Linked DNA regions of Homo sapiens: region 2 is linked to region 1. Evidence: fine-mapped expression QTL. A gene starts in region 1. The other region holds a variant in brackets. All regions are shown on one strand. Distances are between the middles of the regions.

Evidence for each region. PIP is the estimated chance that this variant, and not a neighbour inherited with it, causes the effect.
Region 2: its variant is fine-mapped to the expression of B4GALNT4 in whole blood (INTERVAL, PIP 0.97).

Annotation. Positions count from the first base shown.
Region 1 is chr11:364,495-372,801 of GRCh38, reverse strand. It overlaps B4GALNT4 (beta-1,4-N-acetyl-galactosaminyltransferase 4), which reads right to left and starts at 3,303. Exons shown (of 20, transcript NM_178537.5): 1 at 2,848-3,303; 2 at 590-693; 3 at 48-140. The coding sequence starts at 2,998. RefSeq lists an enhancer at 4,232-4,770.
Region 2 is chr11:399,166-407,472 of GRCh38, reverse strand. It overlaps PKP3 (plakophilin 3), which reads right to left. Exons shown (of 13, transcript NM_007183.4): 5 at 8,277-8,307; 6 at 7,332-7,506; 7 at 7,022-7,139; 8 at 6,768-6,938; 9 at 4,210-4,395; 10 at 3,702-3,855; 11 at 3,338-3,530; 12 at 3,150-3,237; 13 at 2,565-2,939. The coding sequence ends at 2,904. SIGIRR (single Ig and TIR domain containing) reads left to right here. Exons shown (of 10, transcript NM_001135054.2): 6 at 1-48; 7 at 309-411; 8 at 480-630; 9 at 935-1,124; 10 at 1,414-1,757. The coding sequence ends at 1,577. Among named protein-coding and RNA genes, the nearest start is that of PKP3, 9.1 kb to the right of the region's middle. RefSeq lists silencers at 232-291, 362-621, 632-681 and an enhancer at 1,258-1,951. The variant G/A (reference allele first, on the strand shown) is at 3,928.

The sequences.
Region 1 (8,307 bases):
CAGCCCCCGCCCTGCCTCCCAGCCCATTACAGGCCGAGCCAGCTCACCTCCTCCCGCCATGGGGGTGTCTGATGGGTGAAGTTCAGTGGCAGCCTCCCAGCCCCCCCAGGAAACAGCATGTCTAGGTCCCGACCTTCGGGCTGCAGGAGAGAAAAGGCAACAGGGTCAGGGTTGGAAGGGCAGGGAGGAGGTCACACACACCAAGACAAACCTTCACAAAGACCCCTTCCAACATGTATCCACACAGCCCTAAATGCCCGTGAGCCCCAGCCATGCAAACCCTGACCTGTGGCACCTGGCACATACACTCAGACACCCTGGTCACTCTAGCCCAAGCAGATGCTTGGCCACCCCACACACTGACCGGCCGGCACATTCATGCACCTGCTGCAGCCCCCAGACACAGAGCTCCAGACAGGATGGCTGGTGCTGGAGCTCACACAGACAAGCTGTGCCGTGCCCCACATGTCCTGTGTCTCATGCCCCCTGCTGCGTCCTCCAGAATGGACAGGTTCTCAAGACACCAACACACAAGTGGCTTCGGGGTCTCGTCTCCGTGCACACGTGTTCTCCCCAGGGCTCTGCTCACCGCTTGCTCCTCTTCACGGCTCTCACTGGAGTCCTCAGCCCTCTGTGTGGATGGCGCAGCGTGGACCCCCCGGCCGTCGGTCTCACTGGTCAGCTTCTCACCATCTGCAGGTGGCACATGAGGCCTGTCTCGGGCCCAGGCTCTCTCCAAGGCCATTCTGCCTGCTGCTGGGTTCAGCTGGGCCAGGGACCCACATGGCCAGAGCAGGGCAGGCAGGCTGTGGTGTCTCTCACTAAAGCCTCTCCTTCTCATCTGCTTCCTCTGCCACCAGATGCCCCTCCCCCCAGCAAGGCAACTTCTTCTACACCCCACCTCTGGTGGGGCAGCCCAGGCTGAGCCTTCCAGCAGGCTCTTCCCAACCTCCAGCAGGTGTGAGGGAGGAAAGCCGGGTGGGCCAGCTGGCGTGTGTAGGCACCCACATGCACCTCCATCTGGCCATTCTTGTTGAGTGGCTCTGCCTCCAGGAAGACCCCAGGACTGCCCTGTGCCCTCAGCACTTTCTCTGTGTGCTGGAGTGTTCCACGTCTGCCTCCCTTACCAGAACTGAGAACTCAGGGTTAGTGCCAGGGACTGTAGTCTCTCCTGAAGGATTTGAGCTCTCAAAGTCTGGACTGAGGAACAGGCATGGATGCTGACGCCCAGGCATGGCCCTGGAGCAGAGGGTGGCCCTGGATTGAGTGTCCTTGGGTAGGAGGACCAGGAGGGGCAGAATTGGGGTGAAGAGAAGCATCCCTACAGATGCTCAGATCCCAGGGCGTGGAACCCCCTGGGGCTGCAGTGGGGATGTCTAGGTCCTCAGCTTAGGGAGGTCCAGGAAGTGGAGAGGGCTGGGGTGCAGAGCTGGCCTGCCCAGGCTTGTGGGGAGGCAGTAGAGATGTCCACAGGCAGATCTGGGAAGGGTCCCCCAGGGCTCCCCTGACTTGGGCCCCAGGTCCCCCGACAGAACAGTCTGCTCACTCGCCCTCTCCCTGGGCAGCTGTTGGGCTCCTCTGGTCCTGGCCCTAGCCTCAGAGGTAGCAAGTGTACAGGTGCCCTGGGGCGGAGCTGGCTTAGCCTCAAGGGGTCCTTGGAAGAGGGGTCCCTATGCCTCCGCCCCCTCCTGGTTGGGCTTAGACCCCTGCGCTGCTCAGAAAACCACAGAGGAGCCTGCAGAGGGGGCTGGTTTTGTTCTGTGTCACTGGGCCAGCTGTGGATCCTGCCCTGTCTGCTGATAGCTGGGGTGGGGCTTTTTAGGGATTCAGCAGTATCGGGGGTCTCTTGAGGGTGTGGAAGCTGTGAGGTATGTGGGTTGGGACAAGCCCCAGACCCTTGGCCTGTGTGGGTCCAGGCGTCCCGGTACAGGAAGAGAACACAGGGGCTTTGGCAGGTGGAGTGGCCCAGGAGTCCCCAGCCAGTATCATTGTTCTGCCCCCTCAGGACACCTGGCTCCCTGGAAAAGGCTCAGAGGCAGCCAGCTGGGGTCTCTCCTGGTCTGGGCATGGCACTAACCTCCCTCCTCCAGAGGGGGCATTCTGCCCCACCTTCTCCCCCAACCCCACCGCCAGGCTTTCATCTGCGCCTTCCTGTCTGGAATGCTCTTTCCCCCAAAGGTGTATGTCAAAGATCACCATCTCCAGGAGGCCCTACCCCGGCTGGCTCACCGTGACCCCATCTGCTTTGTTTGTGGGTTGGGGTTGGGAGAGTTTACGCCAGGCTCCCCAAGCTGGGCCCCATCCCTACGCATGGACCCCCACAACACTGGCACAGTTCACCGAAGGCGCCCCCGCCGGGAAGCGTCCCAGCTGCACCGGCCACTTCAGCAAGCCCCGGCCCGGGTCCCCAGCACACAGGGAAACTGAGGCCCTGCTAAGCGGGCAGGGGGTGGAGGCGAGGCCTGAGAAGGCCTCTTGGAAGCCTCAGCAGGGTCTAGGGGCAGAGACTTCCCCAGGAGCCCACCGTCAGCCCCTCACTACCGGATCCAAGCCAGATCCCAGAGTCAGGGACCCTCTCTGGGAGGGTCGCGCGCGTCACTGCCGACGTCATCGAGCGTCCGGGCCGAGCCGAACCGCGCCCCCTCCCCCCAAATCGCAGAGCGGAGAACAGCGGGCGGGGTCTCCGGGAGGGTCGGGCCCAGCCGAGACCTCTGTGCGGTGGGAGGCCCGGCCCGCGCCCCGGGGCCCCCGCCGCCCGCGCCGCCCGCGCCCCCCGCGCCGCCCGCGCCCCCCGCGCCCCCCGCGCCGCCCCCGCCCCCCGCGCCCCCCGCGCCCCCCGCGCCGTACCTCGCCCGTAGCCCAGGCGCTGGCGCAGCGCGCGTCCCTGGCGCACCAGGCCCAGGTGCACGTAGGTGAGCCACGCGGCGCAGCTCAGCAGCAGCAGCAGCAGCAGCAGCTTCATCTGCTTACGGATCTTCTTCACCGGGAGCCGCGGCATCGCGGCCGCCGCGCCCGCCCCAGGCCGCGCTCAGCGGCGCCGCTGCAGCCCCCGGCCCCCGCCCGCCCCGCGCCGCATCCCCGGCCCGCCCCGCCGCGCTCAGCGCCCGCGGCCCCGCATGGTCCTTTGTCCGCCGTGCGCGGCCACCGGGTGCGGCCGCGACCCCCCCAGGCCGCCCTCGGCCGCGGGCCCGGGGTGGGCGGCGGGGGCGGCTCCTCGCGGTGCCCCCCGCCCGGCCGCTCCCGGCTCCGCGCTCCTGGGGCGGCGGCGGGACCGAACAGCATCCACGGCTGCCACCGCGGATCGGGCCCCGGCCGCGCGCGCGGAACCAATCGGACCGAGCCAGGCCGCGGGGAGCCAATGGCGGCGCGCGGGGAGGGGTGCGGGGCGCGGGAAGGCGGGGCGGGGCGCGGGGTGCGGGGCGGAGGAGGCGGGGCGAGGGGAGGCGGGGCGGGGCGGGGGGTGCGGAGGGTGCGGGGCGGGGGGTGAGGGGTGCGGGACGGACAGGGATGCGGGGCGCGGGGCGCGCGTCCACCTGGGCCACGGAGCGCGGGGGCGCGGCACACAGACGCGGGGCTGGGAAGCGCTGGGGCTCGGGGACCGTGGGGGGCGGCGGGGGATGGGCACAGCCTGACTGTGGGGCGGGGCGGCCTCCCGAGAACAGTGACCCGAAGGACTGCAGGCGGACAACACGGAGGAGGGAGGGGAGGGACCCGGGGTCCTGGGGGGCGGGGAATGGGGGCGGGCGAGAGAGGCCGGGGGGCGGGGGGGCCCAAGCACCGGCTTCAGCCCAGGGGTGGGAGTCGTTGCGGGATCTCAGCCTGCAGGGCTGGGGCCGCAGGGGGCCGAGCTGTCTGGGCGGCAGGAGGGGCCTCAGCTGGTGGCCCCCGCCCCACCGAGCGCGGCCTGAGGCAGGTGACAGTGTCGTGCCTCTCACCGGGACCTTGTCCCACTTCGTGCCCTTTCTCACCTGGTCTGCACCAACCCCTGCCAGTCCCTCTGTCCCCCCAGTACTTCCCTTGTCCAGCTGCCAGCGTGACCCTACTCTTCTCCCTCTGTCTGCTCAGCTGTCTCTGGGTGTGTAGCAAACCGCCCAGCTTCAGTGCTGTCCAACAGCAGCGTTCCTGTGTTCCTGTGTCCTGTGGGTCAGGAACTCAGGGCACTCGGGGACAGCTCCTCTCTGCTCCTCGAGGTGCTGGCCTCCGGTGGGAAGACGTGAGTGGTGGGGCCGGCTCCGCGGGACAGGCTGGAGCCATCCAGAGACTTCTGCCCCAAGCCAGTGCACCCTCGGCAGGAATGGCTGGGCTCACCCCGGGTGGTTGGCCAGAGCGCCTGCAGGCTCAGCTGCCAGGGGCAGCCTCCCGGTCCAGCACACAGAGTGAAGCATCTTGGAGTCACCCCTCAGGTTTGCCACATGCCGCACGGCCACCCAAGTTCGTGGGTTGTGGGGACGTGGACCCCACCTCACAATGGAAGATTGCCCAGAAGTTGCCTTCTTAAGACCTCAACTCCTTCCCTCCTTCCCCTCCATCCTCCTCCCCTAACTTCTGAGCACAGAAGCAAGCTGGTTACATCCTGCTGTTCATACCGGCCCTTAAACAACACCCGGTCTCTCAAACCTTCCCCCACCCCATCAGCTCCTCATCTCCTGCCTCCTGCAGTCCACTTTTCATATTTCTGTTATCTGCATATTCATTAAAATATAGTGCCCCACCCCTTTTTGAGACAGGGTCTCACTGTGTCTCTGAGGCTAGAGTGCAGTGGTGCAATCTCAGCTCACAGCAGCCTTGACCTCCTGGGCTCAAGCGATCCTCCCACTTCAGGTTCTTGAGGAGCTGGGACTACAGGCATGCATCACCATGCCGGACTAATTTTTTGTATTTTTTTTTTTAACAGATTCAGGGTCTCACCATGTGTCCCGGGCTGGCGTTGAACTCCTGGGCTCAAGTGATCCTCCCGCCTTGGCCTCCCAAAGTGCTGGGATTCCAGGCGTGAGCCACTGTGCCCGGCCAGTGGTGCTCTTTTATGTGTCTCATTCTGTTTCTCCAAGTCCCATATTTTCTATGTGCATCTGTCTGGCTGTGCGTCTAATGCTTTCCCTCTTTCCACTGCATGGCACCCCATCCTAGGCACATTCATCCAGCCAGTGGACGCTACCTAGTATTCTAGTGTCCTGACGAGCCAGGGACTTAGGGGACACAGCAGTGAGCAAGACAGAAAAGGGCCCTCCTTTCATGGAGTTTACATGTTACTAGGCAGGGACAGACCAGTGAACGCATAGTCGCTTTGCTGGTGGTGAGTGACGTGAAGGAGATGAGCTGGGTGATGGAGGGAGGCCGGCTCCCGCTCCAGGGTCGCTCTCTGGGGAGGCAACGGCTGGCCTGACCCGTAAACAGGTTCTTAGAAGGCAAGTGTTGGCAATGTCGGGAGAGACGTGTTTGGGACACTTCATGGGTCCACAGTCAGAGGGTGTCCCCTGTGGATCCAAAGCATAGTAGGTACAATTGAGGGGCGAGCTGGGATCTGCCGGACGCAGATGCTCCATATGCTACCACATCCGTCTCGGCCCCTTCTGGAGAAGAACGGCCACCGCCTCACTTCGGTGTGACCCAGCCACAGAGGAGAAGGTTCTGGGAAATGGGTCTCCAGCTTAGAATAAGAGAACAACCTGGCCGGGCGCGGTGGCTCACGCCTGTAATCCCAGCACTTTGGGAGGCCGAGGCGGGCGGATCACGAGGTCAGGAGATCGAGACCATCCTGGCTAACACGGTGAAACCCTGTCTGTACTGAAAATACAAAAAATTAGCCGGGCGTGGCGGCGGGCGCCTGTAGTCCCAGCTACTCGGAGGCTGAGGCAGGAGAATGGCGTGAACCCGGGAGGCGGAGCTTGCAGTGAGCCGAGATCGCGCCACTGCACTCCAGCCTGGGTGACAGAGCGAGACTCGGTCTCAAAAAAAAAAAAGAGAGAACAACCTGGCAGGTTCCTCCTCTTGACAACTCAGCACAGACGCACACTTCTTTTAAAAAACACATTTAACTTCCAAATAAAGCAAAAAACAAAGTCATGCTTCTACGTAACATGATGCAAATATTCCAACCAGAAGGGACTGAACAAAAGGTTCGTGTCATGTTATCCACATTTGAGAAGACGATCCTCGTTCTTCTAGTTTCTCTAAGAGCGTTTAACACTTGACACTGCAAAGTGCATGTTGGGGGTTGGATGACACAAATACTGAGATGAAATGTAAAGTTAACTGTTGTTAACGCATTTTATGCAGCTAGGAGGGCAATGGAAGAGGAAAAAAGCAGGAAGAACGGATAATGTCAGTACAAGTGTGACTTGTGTGAGGATAAGAAGTACTCACTTCTACGGTCACCAGGTCGTGGCTGGTACAGTCTTTATGGCCACGCTCTTCCGTCACTCCTGCGTGGTCCCTTTGCCCTCTGCAAGCACCTCTGCTGGTCGTGGTTCACTGTCTGGTGGGGTGACCCAAACGTTCCTTCCCAAAAGGCCTATGCTGTTAGCAGTTTTGCCTTATGGGGTGGTTCTGGTTTTCCAGTGGTGTTTTCTGCAAGGCTTAGAGGAGCTACGTGATATTACAGACGATCTCCTGCCTCCCAAATTTCTCCCCCTTAGCCCCATTCTGTGATCAGGTTCCAAGTTCCCCTTGTTGGGCTCAGTCAGCCGGACCAGCACAGGGACCCTCTTCTTTGTCGACCCCCTGGTGTGAGGAACCGGCGTCCAGGTGGGCAGTCTCAGCTTCCTGCGTAACGTGTCCCCTGGTGGAAACACTCCAGGGCTTTCCCAGGACCGAGGGGATTCCTAGGACATGGAACTTTCCGTTTTAAACCTGGGAAAGTCGGCTGGGCGCGGTGGCTCACGCCTGTAATCTCAGCACTTTGGGACGCTGAGGCAGGTGGATTACCTGAGGTTGGAAGTTCGAGACCAGCCTAACCAACATGGAGAAACCCCGTCTCTACTAAAAATAAAAAATTAGCTGGGCATGGTGGTGCATGCCTGCAATCCCAGCTACTAGGAAGGCTGAGGCAGGAGAATTGCTTGAACCCAGGAGGCGGAGGTTGTGGTGAGCCGAGATCGTGCCATTGCACTCCAGCCTGGGCAACAAGAGCAAAACTGAGCCTCAAAAAAATAAAAAATAAAAAAATGAAAATAAGACCGGCAAAGTCTTAAGCAAACTGGGATGAGTTGGTCCCTGGGAATCTGAGGCCTCTAGACCAACAGCGTGCAACACTGCAGGGGGCAAAACTTTCACTTGTGGCTCACTGGGGATTAACGACAATGGGAAGAAGTTGGGGTTTCCACTCCTCCACGCCTGGACCAGTGAGCCCCGGCTTTGGGAAAAGCCAGAGATTAAGTGCTGATTCAGTGGATCCGCTGCATCCAGAGGACCCCAGATCCACAGCATTGTCACTCAGCTGGTGCCAAAACTGAGCCTCCCAAAGGCCATTCCATCAGGAACACGGCGAGATCTGTGGGTTCCAGGAGCACCGGCCGGTTGCTGTCCCCAGGACAATGGCGATGCCGCCATGAGGAGCACCCCGTGGGTGGACGAGGAGCTCTGAATGTGTGGGGTGGTGGTTTGGGCAGAGGCATTGAGGGCACTGACCATCCACAGCTGGGGTGGGAGCCCATCCTGCTGGGACAAGCATCCTCCATGGTGGAGGAAGGGGCCAGTGTTGGTCTCCGCTGTTGGCTGCGCGGTGCCCAGGGTAATCCGCTTCCCACTGCTACAGCCACTTGGCCCGACTCAGGACAAGGGGAGCTGGGGAAAGAGGCTGCCTGATGCGCACAAATGGGTCATTTTGTCCGTCTGACTATTAGGGTCCCTCCTCTGCTGAGACAGGTCTTTGCACACAAATTCTTTATGCTCTGCCCACCCCAAGAGGTCTGTCTACATACCTTCACCCCGACCGTTTCATCTCTAACTTTGTAATCGTGCCCCTCCAAGTGCCTGGCCATCAGCTAGACGGTCGGCCGTGGCCGGGGCGTCCACGGAACTCTGCCTCCTCCTCCATCCTGCTTGCTGCTCGGCCCTGCGAGGACCTGCCTTTGCACCTGTCGTGCAGGCCTGGCCTCCCACACCCAGGTGAGGACCTGCCTTTGCACCTGTCGTGCAGGCCTGGCCTCCCACACCCAGGTGGCGCTGCCGTGCTGGGGCGCCCACTTCGGGGTGGTGCCAGCTTATTAGGCAGAGCCATCTGTGACCAGGGCTGCATTGTGCTTTCTGAGTCATCTGGTCCGAGGGAACGCCTCACGACCCAGTGGTGTATTTCAGAGAGATGAGGCA
Region 2 (8,307 bases), 35 kb before region 1:
GGGGCTACAAGCTCTTCCTGGACGACCGCGACCTCCTGCCGCGCGCTGGTATCCCGGGCCCCACCCCGTGCCCCGCCCACCCGGAGGGCCCGCCCCGCCCCGCCCCATGCTCCGTCCCACCCGGGGCCCCACCCCCACCATCGAGCTCCGCCCCCATCCCCGCCCACCCGAGGCCCCGCCTCAAAAACCCGCCCACCCCGCAGGCCCCGCCCCTCCCTTAGAGCTCTGCGTCCGGCACCGCCCCTGAGCCTCCGGCCCCGCCCTCCCCCGCCCCCGCCCCTGCGCCGCCGACGCCCGCCCTCCCGCAGAGCCCTCCGCCGACCTCTTGGTGAACCTGAGCCGCTGCCGACGCCTCATCGTGGTGCTTTCGGACGCCTTCCTGAGCCGGGCCTGGTGCAGCCACAGCTTCCGGTGGGTCCCGCGCGGGGTTGGGTGGGCCCCAGCGTAGCACCCACCCCCCTGACGGTCCCGCCCCGCAGGGAGGGCCTGTGCCGGCTGCTGGAGCTCACCCGCAGACCCATCTTCATCACCTTCGAGGGCCAGAGGCGCGACCCCGCGCACCCGGCGCTCCGCCTGCTGCGCCAGCACCGCCACCTGGTGACCTTGCTGCTCTGGAGGCCCGGCTCCGTGGTGCGGAGCAGGCGCGGGAGGGTCCGGGGCTAGCGGCGGGTTAGAGATGGGCGGTGCCCGGGCTCCAGGCTGGGACCCCTCCGTGGGGAGCTCTGCGGCACCACGCTTTGTGAATGGGCCCTGGGGGGAGGTTCCGCTGCCTGGGGCCCCGATGCGGGGAGCCGCCCTTGAGGCCCCCGGAGCCACGGAATAGCTGTCGCAGGGCGTGGAACCCGTGGGCAGCCGCAGGTGTGCTCTTGGGGGCCAGGACGCCAGGGGCTTCCGAGGTGTTCACACCTGCAAACCGCCCCGACCTGGCCCCCAGACTCCTTCCTCCGATTTTTGGAAAGAAGTGCAGCTGGCGCTGCCGCGGAAGGTGCAGTACAGGCCTGTGGAAGGAGACCCCCAGACGCAGCTGCAGGACGACAAGGACCCCATGCTGATTCTTCGAGGCCGAGTCCCTGAGGGCCGGGCCCTGGACTCAGAGGTGGACCCGGACCCTGAGGGCGACCTGGGTATGCCCGCCCAGCCCCACTCCCCAACTGGAGAAGCTCAGCACAGGGCGGAGTGGGGGCAGGCACAGGGCACAGGGCCTGGAGGGGCTCCAGGTGTTGAGGACTCTTCCCGGCACCGGGAGCCCCTGCACGGCCTCTGCCCTGGAGGTGCTCGGCCCTCGGTCTGCCTGGGAACTTCCTGGGCCTCACAGGCCATCACAGCAGGGGGTGAGCAGGGGCAGCCCCTGGCAGTGGGTCTGGGCCAAGGCTGTGGGTGGCCACCTCAGGCGTCTCGGTCTCCCCACCCCAGGTGTCCGGGGGCCTGTCTTTGGAGAGCCATCAGCTCCACCGCACACCAGTGGGGTCTCGCTGGGAGAGAGCCGGAGCAGCGAAGTGGACGTCTCGGATCTCGGCTCGCGAAACTACAGTGCCCGCACAGACTTCTACTGCCTGGTGTCCAAGGATGATATGTAGCTCCCACCCCAGAGTGCAGGATCATAGGGACAGCGGGGGCCAGGGCAGCGGCGTCGCTCCTCTGCTCAACAGGACCACAACCCCTGCCAGCAGCCCTGGGACCCTGCCAGCAGCCCTGGGAAAAGGCTGTGGCCTCAGGGCGCCTCCCAGTGCCAGAAAATAAAGTCCTTTTGGATTCTGCTGGGGCCTCGGTCTCCTCCCTTGCGGCGGAAGGTTTCGGATTCGGCTTCCCTCTGCGGCTCTCTCAGCCTTCCACCCCTCCTCTCTCATCCCCACCCCTCCCTCTCTCATCCCCACCCGCCAAATCACCAAATCTGCCCTCTCTCCATCCCCCTTCCTAAGCCAGCTCAGGCGTGTCCCGTGCTTACAGTAGCCTCCTTGGGCCTCCTTGCCTGGTCCCTGGTTGGGGACGTGACTCTTCCTAGACCCTTCCCATGCAGGCAGATCCTGGATGGGGGCAGGCTCCTTAGAGACCTCAAGTTCTGAGCTTCACAGAAACTTTCTGTTTTAAGAATATCCACAGTAACTTCACAACTAAATGGCCTGGCTCTGGGTGAGATGGATGGGGGTGTCCGAGAGCCCACTGGACCCCAAACCTCAGGCAGCCAGTGTGAGAGCCCCTGGTCCAGGCAACTCCAGGCCCAGGGTGGGCGGCGGAGGAGTTGGGTTCATTTGCCGCATGAGTGTAGCCCACGAGGCAGCCACCCTGTTCCTACTCCAGTCACCCCTCTACTCTCGAGGCCCCCAGCTCTGCTCCGTCTGTGCCTGTGGTGCACCCGCTGTCCACCCTGTCCCCTCTCGGCCCTGAGGTGCCAGCTGTCCCTCTGCTGGGCTCTCCATGTCCTATGTCCTCTGATCTTGGGAGGCTTGTGTGTGAGCCCAGGGGGTGGGTGTCCTCAGGGGCAGGGGGTGCCTGGGGACACCTTGAGTCCCAGGATCATGCTGCCAGCCACAGGGTCGGGCCAGCCATGGAAGGACACAGGGCAGTGACTGTTCATGGCCATCTTTATTCCCAGTGCTGGCTATCCCAAGATACTGCCAGGCCACAGCCAACCCCCACCTCTGCCAATGTGACTGGGTCACCACCCCATACACCAGAGCAGCCTTGAGCCCTGCCCCACCCCCTGCCCTGCGGAAGCCAAGTCCCCAGCTATAAGACCCTGCCCCTCCTGGTGGCCCAGGACCCTCAAAGATGCACACAGGGGCCCCAGCGAGGGGCCCCTCCGTCATTAGCCTTCTCCTCCAGGCTGGGCTGCCAAGCAGCCTGGAGCTGAGTCTGTCCCTTGGACGCTGGGCCACGTCACCTTCTCCTCCAGAAGGCTTCACCTATGGGCCCAGGAAGTCCTCCTTCCGATAGCCCTTCTACAGTGGAGAGAGGCCCAAGGTCAGGGTGCATGTCTGCCCATGTGGCCCTCTGCCCGCTGTCCCTCCTGCAGTGTGCTGGGTGTGGCCCGGACCCTTCCTCTCTGGGTCCCTGGTCTCCATCCTCCCATGGGCCTCTTCACTGACCCTCCCCCGGCGTCCCATGCCCTGCACCCGGGTCCCTGCTTGCCCTGGGCTCGGGAAACGTACCGCCCGGAAGTCACGGTGGAGCTTGTTGTACTGCCACAGGTTGGCCAGGAGGCTGGATGCTGCCCGGGAGGACTTCTCACTGTCGGGGCTGAGGGTGGAGGGCAGTCAGGAGGGGACACACAGCCAGAAAGCAGGGTGGACTGGGAGGACCCCTGACCAGGCTGCTGCACGGCTGGGTCGGCCCCTACCTGTCCCGCTTCTTCTTGATGAAGATGAGCTTTCGGAGTCCGTCAAAATACAGCAGGTCTCGGGCAGCGATGGGGCTGGCCACCACCAGGTTGTTGAGCACAGCTATGATGTTGACCAGCACCTCGGCTGGGGGCGACTTCTCACCCACGCTGCCCGGCAGCTTCTCGATCAGGTGGCTCACCACCTTCGTGGCTGTGGGAGGCCGGGGGTCAGTCTGCACCCCTACTCCTGGCCACCTGGGCACCTGGGGTCCCCTGCCTCCCCCAGGGAGCTGGACTGGCCCCAGTGGTCTGAAGCCCACACTTAAAGACAAAATTGACATGTGGGTCCAGCAGGGCAGGGACGAGGGGCTGCCCGACTCACACATCTCGTCCTTGTTCCTAGCGTTCCGAGACAGGTTTCGGATGAGGCCAGTCAGTGAGCGCAGCTGGTGGTGGTCGGCGGTCCTGACACGGTCTAGCAGGGGGTTCAGAATACGCTCCTGCTCCAGGGCCAGGCGGCTCAGCACCCCCGCCCACTGTGGGGAGGGAGGGTGTGAGCCGTGACCCGGAGGCCTCAGACCCTCACCTGAGGGGGTCCTGCCACAATG[G/A]GGTCGCTGCATCCTCTCGCCACCCTCAGGGGGGCCTCTGCTTCTGCCTTTGCCCCCCAGCCGGGGGGAATCAGCCGCAGCCCGGATCAGGTGCCTCCCTTCAAACCCAGGGCAGGACTTCCATCCTCCCAAGGCCCAAGGCCTGCGCCACCGGGACGCTGACCTCCGAGGCTCCGCGGACCCTGGGCGTCCCCTTCCTCCTCCCCTCCCTCTCCCTCCTCTGTCCCCCCCTCAACCGCATGAACCCCTGGGACCCCCTCGGGTCTGGGTTGGGTGCCCCACCCTGCGGTCGCCTGCCGTGATGTTCTGCAGCGCCCCGGCGGCCGCCTCCGTCGTGTGCCGGTTGAGCTCGCAGCGCTGCAGCAGCCGGTTGTACAGCCCCACGATCTGGGGGCTCCACAGCCACTCGAGGCCCTTGGGGTCCTTGGACACCTCCGCGAAGGTGAGCGCATCGGCGGCGAGGGGCAGCTGCGCAGGGCGGGGAGGAGTCGGCGGGGTCGGGGTGAGCGGGTCGGGGTGAGCGGGTCGGGGTGAGCGGGTCGGGTGTGAGTGGGGCGGGGGTGAGCGGGGTCCGGGGTGAGCGGGGCGGGGGTGAGCGGGGCCGGGGGTCGGGGGTGAGCGGGGTCCGGGGTGAGCGGGGCGGGGGTGAGCGGGGTCCGGGGTGAGCGGGGTCGGGGTGAGCGGGTCCCGGGGTGAGCGGGGCGGGGGTGAGCGGGGCGGGGGTGAGCGGGGCCGGGGGTGAGCGGGGCCGGGGGTCGGGGGTGAGCGGGGTCGGGGTGAGCGGGGCCGGGGGTGAGCGGGGCCCGGGGTGAGCGGGGCAGGGGTGAGCGGGGCGGGGGTGAGCGGGGTCGGGGTGAGCGGGTCGGGGGTGAGCGGGGCCGGGGGTCGGGGGTGAGCGGGGTCGGGGTGAGCGGGTCGGGGGTGAGCGGGGCCGGGGGTCGGGGGTGAGCGGGGTCGGGGTGAGCGGGGCCGGGGGTGAGCGGGGCCGGGGGTCGGGGGTGAGCGGGGTCGGGGTGAGCGGGGCCGGGGTCAGTGGAGCCGGGGGTGAGCGGGGCCGGGGGTCGGGGGTGAGCGGGGTCCGGGGTGAGCGGGGCCGGGGTCAGTGGAGCCGGGGGTGAGCGGGGCCGGGGGTCGGGGGTGAGCGGGGTCCGGGGTGAGCGGGGCCGGGGTCAGTGGAGCCGGGGGTGAGCGGGGCCGGGGGTCGGGGGTGAGCGGGGCCGGGGGTCGGGGGTGAGCGGGGTCCGGGGTGAGCGGGGCCGGGGTCAGTGGAGCCGGGGGTGAGCGGGGCCGGGGGTCGGGGGTGAGCGGGGTCCGGGGTGAGCGGGGCCGGGGTCAGTGGAGCCGGGGGTGAGCGGGGCCGGGGGTCTGGGGTGAGCGGGGTCGGGGTGAGCGGGGCCGGGGTCAGTGGAGCCGGGGGTGAGCGGGGCCGGGGGTCGGGGGTGAGCGGGGTCCGGGGTGAGCGGGGCCGGGGTCAGTGGAGCCGGGGGTGAGCGGGGCCGGGGGTCGGGGGTGAGCGGGGTCCGGGGTGAGCGGGGCCGGGGTCAGTGGAGCCGGGGGTGAGCGGGGCCGGGGGTCGGGGGTGAGCGGGGCCGGGGGTCGGGGGTGAGCGGGGTCCGGGGTGAGCGGGGCCGGGGTCAGTGGAGCCGGGGGTGAGCGGGGCCGGGGGTCGGGGGTGAGCGGGGTCCGGGGTGAGCGGGGCCGGGGTCAGTGGAGCCGGGGGTGAGCGGGGCCGGGGGTCGGGGGTGAGCGGGGCCGGGGGTCGGGGGTGAGCGGGGCGGGGGTGAGCGGGGCGGGGGTGAGCGGGGTCGGGGGTGAGCGGGGTCGGGGGTGAGCGGGGCCGGGGGTGAGCGGGGCCGGGGGTGAGCGGGGCGGGGGTGAGCGGGGCGGGTGTGAGCGGGGCCGGGTGTGAGCGGGGCCGGGTGTGAGCGGGGCCGGGTGTGAGCGGGGCGGGTGTGAGCGGGGCCGGGTGTGAGCGGGGCCGGGGGTGAGCGGGCCGGGGGTGAGCGGGGCGGGTGTGAGCGGGGCGGGTGTGAACGGGGCCGGGGGTGAGCGGGGCCGGGGGTGAGCGGGGCGGGTGTGAGCGGGGCGGGTGTGAGCGGGGCGGGTGTGAGCGGGCCGGGTGTGAGCGGGGCCGGGTGTGAGCGGGGCGGGTGTGAGCGGGGCCGGGGGTGAGCGGGGCGGGTGTGAGCGGGGCCGGGTGTGAGCGGGGCCGGGTGTGAGCGGGCCGGGGGTGAGCGGGGCGGGTGTGAGCGGGCCGGGGGTGAGCGGGGCGGGTGTGAGCGGGGCGGGTGTGAACGGGGCCGGGTGTGAGCGGGGCCGGGGGTGAGCGGGGCGGGTGTGAGCGGGCCGGGTGTGAGCGGGGCCGGGTGTGAGCGGGGCCGGGTGTGAGCGGGGCAGGTGTGAGCGGGGCCGGGGGTGAGCGGGGCGGGTGTGAGCGGGGCCGGGTGTGAGCGGGGCCGGGTGTGAGCGGGCCGGGGGTGAGCGGGGCGGGGGTGAGCGGGGCCGGGTGTGAGCGGGGCGGGTGTGAGCGGGGTCCGGGGTGAGCGGGGTCCGGGGTGAGCGGGGCGGGGGTGAGCGGGGCGGGTGTGAGCGGGGCCGGGGGTGAGCGGGGCGGGGGTGAGCGGGGTCCGGGGTGAGCGGGGCGGGGGTGAGCGGGGCGGGGGTGAGCGGGGCGGGTGTGAGCGGGGTCGGGGGTGAGCGGGGCGGGGGTGAGCGGGGTCCGGGGTGAGCGGGGCGGGGTGAGCGGGGCGGGGGTGAGCGGGGCGGGGGTGAGCGGGGCCGGGGTCAGCGGGGCCGGGGTCGCAGCACCCACCCCACGCCCCGCTCAGGCTGGTGCCCACCTCGCGCAGCCGCCGGCTCTGCGGCGTGAAGCAGCCCACGACCTCTCCCGGCGGCGCCCCCGCCAGGTCCCTGCGGCCGCGACCCTCCAGCCGCTGCAGCGCGGACGGCGGCATCTCGTCGTAGAGGCGGTAGGACAGGTTCCGCAGGACGCACACCGCGTTCTCCACGCTCTGCGGGCGGGGGCGCGGGGCAGGGGCGCGGGTCAGAGCGGCGGCCCGGGGGCACGGCCCCTCCTCCACACCGCGCCCCTCACCTTGTCCTCGCATTTGCCCGCGTCCAGGGCGTGGTTGATAGAGGTGACCAGGGCGTCCACCAGCCCGTGGCACTCCCGCATCTTCTGGCGAGTGGCCTGAGAGGCTGAGCTGAGGTTCCTGGGGACCGAGGTGGATCAGAGCCCCCCAGGGACCCCGCATCCCGGGCCTTGCCCCAACCCATCGTGGGCCCTCGCACGCCCATCCCCAGCGCGAGGCGTGCGGTGTGTGGGCTGCGAACGCCAGGCCAGGCGGAGTCCCCACAGTGACCCGCGCCTGCAATCCCCACCCCGCTGCCCGAGGCTGGCGCACCTGAGGAAGCCGGTGGCGTTGTAGAAGATCTCTGCCTCCGAGGCGTTCTGCTGGATGAGGGGGGGACCCCCAGCCCCCGACAGGGGGCTCAACACCAGGTCTGTGAGCTGCTCCAGCGTGTCTCTGGCCAGGCGGTCCTTCAGGTGGTCGCTGGATGAAAGGTTCCACAGGATCCCTGGAGGACGGGGGAGGCTGCTATCAGCGTCTGCCCTCCAACCCCCTCCGCGTTTCTGGGGATGGTGTGAAGAGGTCCCGCCTCTCCCCAGGGGCTGGCCTGGTGTTCTGTGCCTCACCCACGAGCCCCACTGGGGAGACCCTGGGGTGGCATTTGAGGTGATAGAGCTGGGACCAAGCAAGAGGGGACAAGATGTGGGGGTGGGGTGGTGAGCAGGCCTGGCAGTGCAGGCGGCTCCAAGGAGACAAAACCACAGGACAGGGTGGCCGGGGGTCCAGGAAAGAGGCGGGCAGTGGAGGCCCAAGTAGAAACACGGCCGGCAAAAGGTACAAAGGGACGGAGGGGAACCGAATGAGGTGGAGGGGTCAGAACGGAGGAGAGAGGACAGGCAGAGGAGGGACAGGAGGAGGGGGACAGGCAGAAAAGGGGGACAGGTGGAGGGGGGGACAGGTGGGGGATAGGCAGAGGGGGCAGGTGGAGGAGGGGGGCCAGGTGGGGGGGACACAGAGGGAGGACAGGAGGAGTAGGGGACAGGCAGAGGGGGCAGGTGGAGGAGGGGGCAGGTGGAGGAGTGGGGCAGATGGCGGGCAGGTGGGGGGGTAAGGCAGAGGGGGGGAGGAGGAGTAGGGGGGCAGGTGGCAGAGGGGGCAGGTGGAGAAGGGGGGCAGATGGTGGGCAGGTGGAGGGGGGCAGGTGGGGAGGAAGGCAGGGGGGATAGGCAGAGGGGCGCAGGTGGAGGAAGGACAGGTGGAGGAGGGGACAGGCAGCACCTGTGACATTTTTGCGAAGCTCATCATCCTG